Linked DNA regions of Homo sapiens: region 2 is linked to region 1. A link means that fine-mapping ties the variant in region 1 to the expression of a gene that starts in the linked region. Tissue or cell type: blood mononuclear cells. Region 1 holds a variant in brackets; the other region holds the start of a gene. All regions are shown on one strand. Distances are from middle to middle.

Region 1 (8,111 bases):
AAACTGCTAGCAAGTGTACCCTTTCTGCAGAAAGTAAAAATAGCCTTGCTGAAAAAATTAAATTTACGTTCAAGTGCTATTTCTTTACAGCATCAAAGAACAAGAATTTCAAACAGCTATATTCCTGGGTATTTTGGTTTTTTTGTAGCTATTATAAATGGAATTAAGTTCTTAATTTGATCTCAGCTTGGTCATTATTGGTGTATAGTAGTGCTACTGATTTGTATACATTGATTTTGTAACCTGAGTCTTTACCGAATTCATTTATCAAGTCTGGGAGTTTTTTGGAGGAGTCTTTAGGATTTTTGAGATATGAGATTGTATCATCACCAAATAGACATAGTTTGACTCTCTTTTCTAATTTGGATGCCATTTATTCCTTGCTCTTGCCTGATTGCTCTGGCTAGGACTTTCAGTACTATGTTGAATAGAAGTGGTGAAAGTGGGCAGCGGATATTTGCATTGTTTTTTAATCCATTCCAGAAGGTCTAATCTTTACTATAACTGTGTTTGGTGATAGGGCCTTTAAGGAGGTAATTAAGGTTGAATGAGGTTAAAAAAAAAAAAAAAAAAAAAGGAGAGTTCTAATCCCTTAGGATTGTTGTGCTTTGGAAGAAGAGGAAGAAACACAGAGCTTTCTTTCAATTGCATGCACACAAGAGGCCCCATGCAAGCACACAGCAAGAAGTCAACATCTTCAGGCCAGGAAGAGAGGCTTCACAAGAAACCAAGCCTGCTGGCATGGTAATCTTGGACTTCTAGTCTTCAGAGTTATGAGAAAATAAATTTCTGTTGTTTAAGTGAAATTTTGTTGTGGCAGCCTGAGCAGACTAATACACCTAACATGCTCTTTAATATGTTAGCATACTAAACTGATCAAGAAAGTTACACTTCAAAGGGTTATCATTAGTGACCACTGGATGTTGGGGATTATGAGTGCTTTTATCATTCATTTTTCCTACTCTCTTCTAATTTTTCTTCAATGACATATTGTTTTATAAAGAAAAAGAACATTGTTCTTCATTTAAAAAAACAAAAAAGTAGGACTGTCTTCTATGGGGTGGATGATATCTTCAACATCTTCTCTATATTATGTATTTTATATGCCAGTTGTAATATGATCCTCAGTGTAGGTGGGTATCAAACATTGAAGGATAATTCCTTTTAAAGCAATTGTACAAAGATCAAATTATGATATGTAAGCATGGCATATTAATAAAGTTGAAACAGAATATTTACAGAAATAAAATAACTACCTGACTTCCAGACAGTCTTTAAGTACATTTTCGCAAAATTTGACTTTCAATAGGAATTGGACAGGAGGAACAGAATGTTGCGAGAATCAAGGGCTCTAACTTTGGAATAAGGTGGCCTGGTTTTTTCCTCACTTGGCCTCTCCCTAGCTAAATCATTTCCAGAAAGGCATTTAAACTCTATAAGCCTCAGTGTTCTAATCTGAAAAATAATACAATAATATTAACACTCTTAACAAGTGTTTTATTAATAATTAAATGTGATAATACTTAATGAGAACCTACCATAAGACTTAGCTGCTAGGGTGCAACATAGTTATAAAGTACCACGCTTATTTGAAAGTTCAAGGTTATACTTTCTATAAAGGACTTCCAATACAGATATTTTGCATTTCTGACTGAAATAGATATACATGCTTTTCATTTCTATTGGACAAAGGGTGGGCTTTTAGCCCACATATGAAAGAAAAGCCTCTAAGCTAAATTTATTCTTGCATAGATGATTACTGTGCATCTATAAAAGGAGAGATTAAGTCCAGGAAGTAGTTCTACATTTTTTTCCAAACTCAGTTTTGTTCCTAACCTAATATTTATTGCTTACAATTTAATATTTTATATTTAAAGTAATAGTCACATTTGTATAGCATTATACATATTTCATGTATGAATATTTTGGCTAAATAGGATAATACCTCTTCATAGAAATTTAGATTATAAGCTTTAAAAAAATGAAGGAATTCCAGCTAAAACTAATAATTTGGATTTGGTTCAAGAAAATAAAAATAAATAAATTAAAATAAATTCCCCCAAATCTGGAGATTAGTAGATTGAAAGTGATCTCAAAAAATTATATAACTGCCAAAAAAAAAAAAAAAAAAAAAACCCCAAAAAACCAAAACTGCCCTTTGCTTCTGGAACAAAATTTTCAGGCTTGCATAATTTTTTTCTAATAATAATGTATTTTATATAGTTGCAGGGATTATGTACTAAACTTACTGTCTTAACTGCCTGAAATTTGTAAATGGACAGGCTGGTGAGAAGTTCGTGGGCTGAACAATTTTTGAAATGTCGGCTGAATTGCATCTTTTCCTGAAATACATTTCACAAGTCTTAACAGCACCAAGTGGCCTAAATGAGTTAGGATCACTCCTCAAGCCCTTAAATTAATATCAGGAAGCAATTTAGACACTGAGGAGAATTAAGCTCAATGTGTTAGTGAGATGAATAATTGAAGCATTTGAAGTGGGTGATAGATCTTACTAAGTGATTACTTCCTTATAAATTCCTAAACAAGAAGTCTTCATTGAGAAATGGTTTGGGATTGCTGCCATTTGTCACTTGGCCTATGAATGCTTAATCACCTGCGTTTTCAGGCCATTAAAGGCTATTCAGTGTATTGTGGTGGCCCAAAAAAGTTAATACATCCACTGAACACCCAACCCAACTCCCCAGAGGGACCATTGCAAATGCTGGGAAAGTATTCAGCTTACTGTTGTCACTCTGAGTAAGTAAGCCACTATTGTCCTGATAAATTTTAATAAAAGTTAATATATAAGTAGGAAAAAAAGGATTTTTTTTTACTATTTTAATGCTTATTTAAGTTGCACACTTGTAGTTATTTTAAAATTTGAGTTAAAAATTACATCAGATTCATTGTAACTGAACCCTCAATAACCCAGTTTAGATTACATTGGTCAGGGCTGGGCGTCGTGGCTCGCATGTATAATCCCAATACTTTCAGAGATGGAGGTGGGCAAATTGCTTGAGGCCAGGAGTTGGAGACAAGCCTGGCAAACACGGCAAAACCTCATCTCTACTGCAAATACAAAAATTAGCCAGGCGTGGTGGCGCACACCTGTAATTCCAGCTATTTGGTAGGCTGAGGTAAGAGAATCGCTTGAACCTGGAAGGGGGACATTGCAGTGAGCTGAGATCACGCTGCTGCACTCCAGACTGGGTGACAGAACAAGACTTGTTCTGAAAAAAAATACACTGGTTAAATTTGTTATGCATGTGTCTAATTGAAGAGACAACCTGAACAGGCTAAGTGTGAGCAACAAGGCTGTTGATTCACTCGGGTGCGAGTGGGCTGAGTCTGAAAAGGGAGTCAGTGGAGGGTGGCGGGATTGGAGCTAGTTTTACAGGTTAGGGCTAAGCAGTGGAAAGTTACAGTTAGGGGACGTTTATTGCGGGCGGGGAAGAATGTCACAAGGTACATTATCACAAGGTGGGAGGGGTCACAGGGCACAGTGTCACGAGGTTGATCAGTTAGGGTAGAGCATGTTACAAGGGTAGAATGTTGCAAGGCTGGCTAATCAGCTAAGACAGGAACTAGCTGTTTTTTCTTCCTTTGTGGTTTTCCTGTTGTCCCAGACTTTCTGGCTCCAGGAGACCTTCTGGATGTGTACGTGTGGATCACAGGGATCATAATGGCTTCACCACGGCATAGCCTGTTCAGAGGACCTTACAAAATTGTGCATCATGAAATTTATCAACTACTTATAGTAAAGGAATGACAAAAATAAATTTAAAAGGAGGGGTTAGCTTCCACCACCTAGACTACTATCATATGCTTTTATATTCCTATATGCACAGCATATGCTTCTATATATGTTAGACATCTTAATATACCCTGGGTTAGCGGCAGCGTAAGATGGTGTTTAAGAAGAAAGGCTCTGCAAGACTCCGTCTCAAAAAAAGAAAAATAAAAAAAAGAAGAAGAAAGGCTCTGGAG[G/C]CAGATATACTGCAGCCAGATCCCGGCCCAATAGGTCAGTTATTTAGTTTCTCTAAACCCCGCTTTCTTTATCTGTAAAATGGCGAGAGTGATGGTAATAACTGCATAGGGGCAGGTGAGGATTAAACGACAAAGTGGATGCCTGGGTCTTTTGTGCAGTGACTTGCAGATAGTAGTCATTATACACATTTGTCTATTATGGAATCCTGTCATCTTTTTGTTTGCTCAAACTATACAGTGCTTTTTTTTGCCCAGTAATCTACTCAACCATCATAATTCAGCATTAAGTATTTATTATGTTTCTTTAAACCTTTTGATTACATTAGTTGTGAGTCCAGAACCAGCTTAAGTGACTGGCTGAGCTTGTGTAAAACATGAGACTGAGGGAAAAGAGGTAGTTTTATATGCATGCAATATAAAACGCTAGATATTTTCTTAAGCTACATGAGCATGTTCTAATAAAGGCAGGCAGCAGATGAGAAGAATTTATAATAGCTACATTCCATATATTCTTGTTTCTGCTTCATAATTTGTCTTCGGTGAGTATGTAATTTTTTTTCACAGTAGTTATTCCCAGCTGCATATGTGTGCTGCAGAAAGAAAGAGCATATGGAATATATACCGTGTATATATACATATAGAGATATTCTGGCACTGGGCATGTGGATTCACATGCATATACATGCACACACTCGTACTATCAGTCTATGTATGTCTATATGTAGAGAGAGACAAATATATGTATAGATATACATTCCTTCTGCTCTTTTCATTGTGTTATGCATGTCAGAGGCAGTGAGAGTTCTGTTCTCCTCCCTATTCCCCACCCCCCACAAGCTGGAGGGCCAGAAGGTGGGGCGGTACCTCAGGATAATGGCAGCAGAAGGCAAAGGGAGCAGACAGCTGGCAAGCTCTGTCCCAATATGCTTCCCTGAAAGAGGCGAGGAAATTTCAGAAGATGCAATGCCTGAATGGCTCACTTTGCAGGAAAACAGAAGAACCAAGGTAAATTCCTTAGAATGTCATCCATTTTAATGGGTCTAGAATTGACCATCTTCTTATCACCATTTGGTAAACTTCCCCAAAGTTGTGAGTTTATAAACATCTCATCTTGGAAGATAGTCTAGAAAGAAATGTCAACTTTTCTGACTCATGAGAGCTCTTCTCATAAGCTTAAAAAGACTCTGCCAATGCCAGGTGTCTCCTGGAATTTTCTAGAACAAAAATATACAGTGAAACCTCTGCTATGTTAAACACTGGGAGCATAAGAAATTCTGTATAGCAGATGCCCTGTCATAAGCAATACAACTTAACTGTTTTGAATGAAACATTTTCAAAAGACATTTTACATGCCTCCTTGCCATTTTAAACAGGTTATTCTAATTTCACACTTTCCTGATGACTTAGGGTCAACATTATGAACAATAATTTTTATTAGTCAAACATAGTACTCTTTGAAATGCTCCATTAAAATATATAGGACTATTTCCCCTGTTATTAAAGTTTTTCTTTTCATTTTACTCTGGGCCATTATTTCTCCCAAGGTCTGTTTTGATACTTTTAAATCAGTTGTCGGCTTGAATTACGTAGCCTAGTTTGTTGGGATGTTATAAAAGTAGGAAATAATTGCTAAGTGAGCACTCAAGGCTTCCTTTCTTGCAAAGGCCTTGTCATGTACATGGCCTTTGCAAAACCTTGCAAAGGTTTTGCTTGTTTGTTTGCTTCCTGGGTTGTCAGAGATGAGGTTAATGAAAGGCTGAATCTTCCTTGAACACAGTAGTCTGTTCCTATCCACGGTTTCACTTTACATGGTTTCAGTTACCCATGCTCAACTGTAGTCCAAAAATACTAAAATATTTTGAGAGGAAAGAGAGAATTCATAGTCACGTAACTTATAATCCAATATATTGTTATCATTGTTCTATTTTATTATTAGTTATTGTTGTTAATCTCTTACTGTGCCTAGTTTATAAGTTCAACTTTATTATAGGTATATATATATATATAAAGACAGTATATAAAGGGTTCAGTACTCTTCACAGTTTCAGGCATGCACTAGTGGTCTTGGAACATATCCCCCAAGGATAAAGAAGGACTACTGTATTATAATTGTATAGTGTCATTTTGTCCATAAAGCTTTATCTTATCTCCACAATTAGATTGTAAACTCCTTGGAACAGTGATCATATTATATACCATTTTCTTTATTCTTTATAACACCAAATACAGTACTCTACTTGTAAACTAGACACTTACTTACTTTTACATTGATTCCAAGGTATAAAAAATTTTATACTGGTTCATTATTATCACAATGAAAGAGCAATGTTTTGGGTGGGGCTATCAAGCTAACAAATTAACTTCAGCAACTGCCAAAAGCACAGGATGACAACTGTATTCATGGGACAGATAGTAGTATTAATGAACAAAGAGCTTCAGGGGTTCAGTTATTTTGCTACATGCTGAAATATTAATATGTACAGGCAGGCAAGTACATGTGGATCAGAAATGTAAGCAGTAAAAGTGATCAGTTGATGTGATATGTAGTTGATTTTTTTTTTCTTTAGGGATTCTGATAATCAGAGCCATGGTTTGAGGATATGTGGTCTGTCATTTCAAAACTTTATAAATTCAGATTTGGAAAAACTCCTTTTCCTAAAATTAATATTTGAAATTTTATCAGCATAAACTATCCCATTTATGCATAATATGGTAAGAATAGGAAGCTTTTGTTTTACATTTTATATGACTCATATAAAATGAACTTCTTATGATTAAAATATAGTTAAACTCTTATTTATTTGTGTGTTTCAATTTAGTTGATTATCTTATAGTTTATATGCCAGAATATCATATGGGAGAAGACATCATTTATCTGCTTATGTTTCTAAACAAAATCCAGCTATTTATTTTCTTTTTCAAGCTGGTTCTAAACTAGATGAGGGTCAAGTACATGGAATCCCTTATGTCCTTTACTTCTCCACTTGTTTTGGTTATGCTTAGAACTAGCTCTATTCATTATAATTGCTCACCTTCACAGAAATACTGATGACATCATTTTAGAAACACAAGTCATTGATGTTTCCACTTATTTATGGAGTGCCCAATTTGTAGCACATGCAGATAGGCCCTTAATAAATACTGATATCCTGGGGCTGGCTAGTACTGTTTCTTACTATCTGACTCTTATATTTTCAGGAATTTTGCATTCTGGTTGGTAAATCATTGGTAGCTTTAAATTAACCATAGTGGGATTATTTACACCACCACAACACAGGAATTGACAAATGTTCCAAATGCCCCTCTATGAGCCAGTTGCTGATCATGAGTATTTTTTATGGTGATGACTTGCAAAAGAACTGCTTGATTTCCAATACACATTGTGGTACAAGAACATATAAAATAGAAATACTCCTCTACTACTGGAAGGAAGTAGTAAGGACTCTTGATTTTGATAACAGAAATGTTAATGCAATGGAGACCAATATGACAGAATTTAGTTGGATCTTTCACAAGTACTTGATATATATGTATGCTATTGGTTGAATGAACCACCCCCTGGCCCTGCAAAAGGATGTAGTAGAAACTTATTCCCCAATGCAACAGTGTTGGGAGGTGGGGCCTAATAAGAGGTGATTAGGCCATATGTGGTCCCCCCTCATGACTAGATTAATGCCATTAGTGTGGGAGTGGGTTTATTATAAAAGGCCAAGTTCAGGATCGGGCTCCGTGGCTCACGCCTGTAATACCAGCACTTTGGGAGGCCGAGGTGGGCAGATCACAAGGTCAGGAGATCGAGACCATCCTGGCTAACACAGTGAAACCCTGTCTATACTAAAAATACAAAAAATTAGCTGGGCATGGTGGCGGGCACCTGTAGTCTCAGCTACTTGGGAGGCTGAGGCAGGAGAATGGCATGAACCAGGAGGCAGAGCTTGCAGTGAGCCGAGATGGCGCCACTGCACTGCAGTCTGGGCAACAGAGCAAGACTCCATCTAAAAAAAAATAAAAATAAAAATAAAAGTCCAACTTCAGTCCTGTCTTATTTCTCACCCTCTCTTGCATTTCTGCCTTCCACCAGGGAATGACACAGCAAGAAGGCCCTTGCCAGATGCCACCCCCTC
Region 2 (8,111 bases), 240 kb before region 1:
AGTTTGGGCCATTAAAAATAAAGCTGCTATGTACATTTGTGTACAGGTCTTATGTGGACATATTCTTTTATTTCTCTTGGGTAAATACCCAATAGTAAAATGGCTGGATTTTGTGGTAACCTTAAAAAAAAGTCTACTGTTTTTCAAAGTAGTTGTAGTATTTTATGATTTAATTTAATTTACAAATCTATATCTTAAATGACAAATAAAAATTGCATACATTTATGGTATACAATGTGATGTTTTGATATATGTATAGATTGTGGAATTATTACATCAAGCTTGTTAACATATCTATCACCTCACATGCTTATTTTTTTGTGGTAAGAACAGTTAAAATCTCTTTCCGCAATTTCAAGTTTAGATTATTATTAACTGTAGTCTCCATGTTGTGTAATCATTCTCCAAAATTTATTTCTCCTGTCTAACTGAAACTTTTTACTCTTTGACCAACATCTCCACATTGTCCCCACATTCACAAGCCCCTGGTAACCATCTTTCAATTCTCTGCTTCTATGAGTTCAACTCTTTTAGATTCCACATAAAAGTAAGATCATACAGTATTTGTCTTTCTGTGCATGGCTTATTACACTCAGCATAATATCCTCCAGATTTATCTATGTTGTCACAAATGATTAGATTTCATTTTTTATGGCTGAATGGCTGAATACTATTCCATTGTGTATATATACTACATTTTATTTATTCCCATTAATAGACACTTAGGTGGATTCCATGTCTTGAAATTGTGAATAATCTGCAATGAACATAGAAGTACAGATATCTCACTGACTTACTGATTTCATTTCCTTTGGATAAATACCCAGAAGTAGGATTGCTGGATCATATGGTTGTTTTATTTTTAATTTGTTGATTAACATCTATGCTGTTTCCTCCAATGACCATGGGTTATACTATTTTATAATTCTGCCATCAAGTGTATGAGAGTTCCAGTTCTCCTATATCTTTACCAATGCTTGGTATGGTCAATTTCTACTTATTTGTTTGTTTATTGATATTTAAAATTTTATCCATTTACCCAGGTATGAAGGGGCATCTCATTGTGGTTCCAATTTCCATTTCCATAATGACTAATGATGTTGAGACTCTTTTCATGTGTTTATTTGCCACTCATTATCTTTTTTGCTGAAGTGTCTGTTCAAATCTTTTGTCCTTTAAAACATTGGGTTATTTCTTTTGAATACAGTGATTCAATTTATTTTGAATCATTATGTATTCTGGATACTAGTTTTTTAAAAAATTATAGAAATCATTTGGAAATATATTCTTCCATCCTGTGGCTTATTTTCTTATTCTATTAGCAGTATCTTTTGAAGAACAGTACATTTAATTTTGATAAGGTCCAATTTGTCAGTTTGTTCTTTCGTAGATTATTTTTGTTATATCTGAAAAATCTGCCTATCATAAGGTCACAAAAGTTATTCTCCTATTTTAAAAAGAAGTTTTGTCATTTTATTTTCAGTTAAGTCAATGATTCATTTTAAGTTAATTTTTGCATGTGGCAAAATAAATAGATATATTAAGGGGCAGATTCAAGTTTCTTTTTTGCATGTGGATATCCAGTTGCTCCAGCATTGTTTTTGAAAAGACTATCCTTTCTTTCTCTATTAGATTTTCTTTGCATCCTTGTGGAAAACATTTGCTCATGTATGTGTGGGGGTGTCTTTCTTTCTTTCTTTCCTTTCTTTCTTTTCTTTTTTTTTTTTTTTTTTTGAGACAGAGTCTCTCCCTGTCACCCAGGCTGGAGTGCAGTGGCACAATCTTGGCTCACTGCAGCCTCCGCCTCCGGGGTTCAAGTGATTCTCCTCCCTCAGCTTCCTGAGTAGCTGAGATTACAGGCATGTGTCACCATGCCTGGCTAATTTTTCTTTTTTTGTATTTTTAGTAAAGATGGGGTTTCACCATTGGCCAGGCTGGTCTTGAACTCCTGACCTCAGATGATCCTCCCACCTCGGCCTCCCAAAGTGCTGGGATTACAGGCATGAGACACCTTGCCTGGCCAGGTCTGTTTCTTCATTGATCTACTGGTGTATGTTACAAGTACTACATTTATTTGATTACTTACAAGAAGTCTTGAATCAAATAGCGTTAACCCCCCAACTTGTTTGTTCTTTTTTAAAGTTGCTATTGTTTCTTGCCACTGAGCTAAAAAATAGTTGCTGTTGACTATTTTAGGTTCTTTGCATTTTCATATGTGTTTTGTCAATTTCTACAAAAGTCCTCCTGGGATTTTGATTGGAATTTGCTGGAATCTGTAGAATAATTTGGGAAGAAATGACATCTTTAAAATATTGAGTAATATTTTATATATTACTGGCTAATTAATATATCTATTTATTTTGTTTTTTCTTTATTTTTTCTCAACAATGTTTTAAGATTTCTGTTTATAGGTTTTCCACATCTTTTATGTACATTATCCCTATTTTATATATTTTTATGTTATCATTAGCGACATTTAAAACATTCAATTTCCAATAACTTGTTGCTAGTATATAGAAATTCAGTTGATTTTATATGCCAATCTTGTATCCCGAAATCTTGCTAAGCTTACTTATTAGTACAAGTAGCTTTGATTCTCGATTCCATCACATTTCTATACAAATGATCATATTGTCTGTGAATAAAGACAGTTTTATTTCTTCTTTTCTGATTTCTGTGCTTATTTATTTTTCTTTTCTTTTTTTATTGTACTAGCTGAAACTTCCAGGACAAAGTTGAATAGAAGTGTTGAGAGTAAAAATTCTTGTCTTGTTCTGGTCTTTTATCTTTCAGTATAATACATTTTCATAGGTGCTTTTTTTTGGTTGAGAAAATTCTCTTCAGTTTCTTTTTCACTGAGTCGTTTTATGAGGAATGGATGTTGGATTTTGCCAAATGGTTTGTTGTGCCTATTTTATGTGCCTATTATGTACATGTTGAATAATTTCTTTTTTCTTTTTTTTTTTTTTTTGAGACGGAGTCTCGTTCTGTCACCCAGGCTGGAGTGCAGTGGCATTATCTAGGCTCACTGCACACTCCACCTCCTGGGTTCATGCCATTCTCCTGCCTCAGCCTCCCGAGTAGCTGGGACTACAGGCGCCTGCCACCAGGCCTGGCTAATTTTTTGTATTTTTAGTAGAGATGGGGTTTCACCATGTTAGCCAGGATGGTCTCGAAATCCTGACCTTGTGATCCGCCTGCCTCAGCCTCCCAAAGTGCTGGGATTACAGGCGTGAGCCACCGCGCCCGGCCCTGAAGAATTTCTTTTAGCATTTCTTGTGTAGGTCTCCTGGAAAAAAAATCTGATTTGGGGAGAAGGGTATGAAAATGTCTTTATTTTTCATTTTTGTAGGATATAGGACTATGCTACAATTTTATGTAGAATCTATTTAGAATCCTATACAGAATTCCAGACTAACATGTTTCACTTTCAGCTCTTTAAAGATGTCATTCCATTGTTTTGGAGTAATTGTTTCTGAAGAGAAATTAGACATAATTTTTATCATTTTTTTCTTCCGTGTAATGTTTCTTTTTTCTCTGACTGCTTTTAAGATTTTTGTATCATCTTTGGCTATCAACAGAGTGAGTATGGTGTGCCTAGTTCTGTTTTTGTGTTTATCCTCTTTTGGGGTTACTATGATTCCTGATGCTGAGGTTTGATATTTTTAATCAATTTTGAGAAATTCTTGGCCATTATGTTTTCAAGGATTTCTTCTGACTCATTTTCTATCTCTCACAGATGCAATTACATATTTACTAGGCTACTTAATATTGTCCTAGAGATCATAGACTCAAGTTTTTCACTCATTCCCCCTTTTATTTATTTATTTATTTTTGGATAATTGACCTGTCCTCAGGTTTACTTCTGCTTTTTGCTGCTGCTAATAGGCTACTGTTGTGTTTTATGGCCTGTTAGACTCCTAATATGTATTCTCTTTTGATGACAGTGTATTTTAAAAACAAATTTTGACATTGCAGTTTGGTTTCTTTTCATACTTTTCATTACTCTGCTGAAATTCTCTATATATTCATGCATGCTCTCTACCTTTTCCACTGAATTATTTGACATATTTATCATAGTTATGCTGAAGTTACTCCCTGATAAATCTAACGTCTGTGCTTTCTAGAGTCTCAGCCTGTTGACTGTTTTCTCATTTGATTATTGCTCACATTTTTTCTCTTTGTGGGTCTCAAAATTTTTTACTCTATGTTGGATATTGTGAGAAAAATAGTAGAGATTGAGAAAATTAATATTTATTTACCCTAAAAAAGTGCATACTTTTTTTGTTAGACCTTTTCTTGGGAAAGTTGAGGAAATCTGTTGTATATTTGAGGTATGTGGGATTATTTCAGCTTTAGTTGGATTAGTTTACCACTGACTTCAAATGTTTTGAAAACAGAATAAGGTCTTTTCTATCACTAGGGCTTGTGATCTGAGCACTGGCAAGATTTCAGAGATCTCTGTGTGCTCCCAGACTGTTTTGGTTGCTAGGGAGTTCTTTTTCCTTTCCTGTTTCTGACTTTATTAATCTCAGGAGGTCTCTCTTCTTTTTGCTCTGCTGCTTCAAGCCTTTGGCATCCAGTGCCTTGTACTTAATGAAAGTTTGCAACACTCTGAGCAACTGTTCTCAGTTCTTCTGCCTTATTTCTGGCCTCCGTTGCAACTGTTTTGACCTAGTGAAGGCCTAGACTTTCTCAGACAGATTTCTTTTAACTCTTCTGCCCTGACTCCAGTCTTCACTGGGATGCTGCCTTGCACTTAGGGAAGGTTCACATGCCTCAAGGATCTCTCTCTCTCAGATTTCTTGACTTTCCCTCAGTCTTCAGTATAGTCCTCCTCTGTGCCTGGTGAAGACCTGTGGTAAAGTGCTGGCAGGTGAGTACAGCTTGATGGTGTGGATGGGTTCCTTGGGACTCCAGCATGTCAAGCTAGTTCACACACAGGTCTTAATAGTTGTCTAAGATTCATGTAGTTCCTCATTTTCTTTTCTGTGGTAGATTCTGTTTCCTGCTGCACCACCAGGGATGAAAAAATTCACTGGTCTCTTCTTTTATAGAACGGGATCATAACTATACAGATTTTAGTTAAGTTAGCTTTATTAGTATTCTCAGCTTTTTTAATGGGATAAAAAGCAATGATATTATGGATTATCTGACTTTTCCTTTAGTATTAGGTTTGCCCAATCATCTCCATGATTTCTAAATTCCAAACTTCTTGAATAAATAAAATTTAAAAGAAAACATTGTACTAAAGTCAAAAGAAGGGTTTTAAGGCATAGTTCTACTTTTTACTGTCCATGTATCCTTGGATAAACTACTTCTCTGAAATTGTATTGCTTGCTTTTTCAGCTTGTTGAGTCTTTCATAAATTTAAGGGTTGGAATATGTCTCTCAGACAGAAATTGATAGAGCTTTGCAAGTCTTCAGATGTATTCAAGTTTGGTAAACACTGGGTTAGGCCATGGATAAAAGATTGGTCTTTGTGTGTTCATAAGAAAACCTGGATAGGAAGCTCTTCTTCTTACAGAAAGCCTCGATTGAGAAGTAAAGCTGGGACTATTAGTCCGTGTTCTGCAGTGAAATAATGGTAGCCATGCATAGATTGATTTAAGATCTATGCATGTTAAGATACCTGTCTTAACACAGGTAATAGTCACATCAGGGAAAAGAGCAACAGGCAGAACTCTTGGCTTTGTGTAAGAGCCCAAGGAAAGGGCCTGAGAGAGTACACACTGTATCAAAGTGTAGTGTTAATGTGAGGTGTCGGGAAAAAGGTCTTGGGTGTGTGTGTGTCTGCATAATATATGTGTGGAAAACTCTCAGTGCTGGTCCTTTGAGATATGTCTGTGAAAACTCTTTCAATTAACAAAAATAACCAACATTAATTGAATACTTTTTATGTGCCAGTCACTGTTCCAAGTTCTCTACAAAAGGTAATTCTTTAGTCCTTATAGTAATACTGTAGTGGTGCTGATACTATTTTTATCTTCATTTTTCAGAGAGGAAGCTAAATCACGTAAAAATTAAGAAACAGCTCAGCGTTTCACAGCTAGTAAGTAACAGAGATGGGCTTGAGACCCAGATTGGCAGGATCCAGGTCTTGTGCTCATGACGACTCTGCTATGGTGCCTCCCTTGAAAGCATCTTAGTGCTTTCATTGTTGTTTTTGTTATTGTTATTCTTACTATTATTTTGTACCCCCTTGGTGGATAGTGGCTGTGAATTTGTAGTTGTTGGTGTGTTTCTTCTGGAGCGTAAGCTCCTTCCTCCTCTATTGTTAGCCAGAGTTTTTGTTACCTTTGAAATAATTGCTAAATCAACAAAACATCTGTTACATTGCTGCTGCTCGAATGGCTATCTTTTAGAATTAGCACTCTTCTTTCTGAATCTGATGCCACAGCCTTTTGAACTTAAGGTATTTGGATGTGTCAGTAAAGGGGCTGTGGTAGCTGTGGTGACAGCAACTCCAATGGTGGTGACCGTAGAGAATGTGGCAGAGCTGTGAATGAGATGAAGAGATTTAGTGATGGCAGAGGAAACTTTGGGATTTCACAACTTTCTTCCTCCAAAAACTATTTGAAAGCAGATATGAGGAGTGGGAAATACAGAAACAATTCCAGCCTTTGTGCACCTTACAGCATAATGAGTGATGCTCACAGCTGATAAATAATAATAGCAAATACCTGTATAGAACTTACTATGTACTGGACACTTTCCCAAATATTTTACATGCGTTATCTCACATGTTCCACTCAATAATCCCAGAAGATGGAACTCTGATCTCTAGTTTGCAGTTGAGGAAACTGAGGCAAAGCAAGGTTAAGGAGCTTGCTCAAGATCCCACAACCAGTAGGTGACAGAACTGATATTTGAACCTAGGAAGATTGGCTTGAGAATCTGACACTTAAACACTATCCTATTCTGCTAACAAATAATGAATCAGTTGGCAACTATGGTAAGAGCTACAGAGACAATGAGAAGATGAGGGGGATTGAGCTGAGTCTGGAGGGTTTGGGAAGACTTGCCTGATGAAGTGATGAGGAGTGATGAAAAAGTCAGCCAGGTGAAGGGGCTTGTGTATATGTACATGTGTGTGCCTGTGTTCCTCTGCCCATGCATGTGGCATGGTCAGGGAGACACATTTTTAGGACTTGTGTAACACATCTCTGTAAATAGCTTCAAAATAAAATATCAATTTGTGATTCTTGTAATGGAAATTTACTTCATACACAACTTTCAGGCACTGTTTTGTAGCATAATTCAAAGTGATGCTGTCTTTGTATACGGCTTTAAGACAGTTTTTGAGCACATATCTCTGCATGTCTGTGTCCTGCTTTGTGGGCAGTAAGAAGCTTGGGAATCCCGGAAAGCTGAATTCACATTCCAGCTTTTTAGCCGTGGTCATTGCTCAGTTATTTGGGGTTGTGTTCTCTGTTTGTTGATTAATAGAAAATGCATTAAAAGTGCATAAAATAGAAAAATTACCCCCAATCAGTGCAAACGTCCACATATCTGAAGGCTTCTGTTGCAGGTGCCTGGTAATCATCAGAACCCCTCTAGTGAGACCACCAGGTTATTTCTGGGCTCCATCCCAGAGTCAATGGTCCCTCAAAAAGGAAGCTTTTGTTTACTGTAAGCAAAACCAAATGGGATTAGGAGGGCCATGGATTCAAGAACTCTAAAGACAGGGTTGAGAAATTAAGTGAGAAGGAGAAGACAGAGGAAGATCTAAGCATTGAGATTACTCCTCTGCCCAACTTAGTTGTGTTCTAACATTTTTAAAAACGAGATTAACTGGGAAGCAAATAGAAATTAGACTATTTATTAGCAAGCCTTTAGCAGTTTCTCATCAAGTGACACATTTGGTGTTTAGTGTTCCTAATGAGTTGCACTAGGGTTATTTTTACACTTTTGGGCATCTGTGGAGTGGTAAATGTGTTCCTAAATATTAGATATAATTACAATAAAATATGTTTATATAAATTTACTTGCTACCAGATTCAGACTAGTTTTGTTTTAATCAGGGTTTAGAATTATACATGACTTTCATCTCTCTTCACCTTTATCATCATTAATCAAGAGCTGACTATATCAGATGTCTGCACTTGAGT

Evidence for each region. PIP is the estimated chance that this variant, and not a neighbour inherited with it, causes the effect.
Region 2: LINC01088 starts here. The variant in region 1 is fine-mapped to the expression of LINC01088 in blood mononuclear cells (TOPMed, PIP above 0.99). The same link has a PIP of 0.9 or more in whole blood.

What each region holds. Positions count from the first base shown.
Region 1 is chr4:79,206,813-79,214,923 of GRCh38, forward strand. All of the region lies in intron 4 of LINC01088 (long intergenic non-protein coding RNA 1088), which reads left to right. It also overlaps a transcript of NAA11 not described here. Among named protein-coding and RNA genes, the nearest start is that of NAA11, 120 kb to the right of the region's middle. The variant G/C (reference allele first, on the strand shown) is at 3,988.
Region 2 is chr4:78,967,001-78,975,111 of GRCh38, forward strand. LINC01088 (long intergenic non-protein coding RNA 1088) reads left to right here and starts at 4,748. Exons shown (of 6, transcript NR_038342.1): 1 at 4,748-4,876; 2 at 6,000-6,052.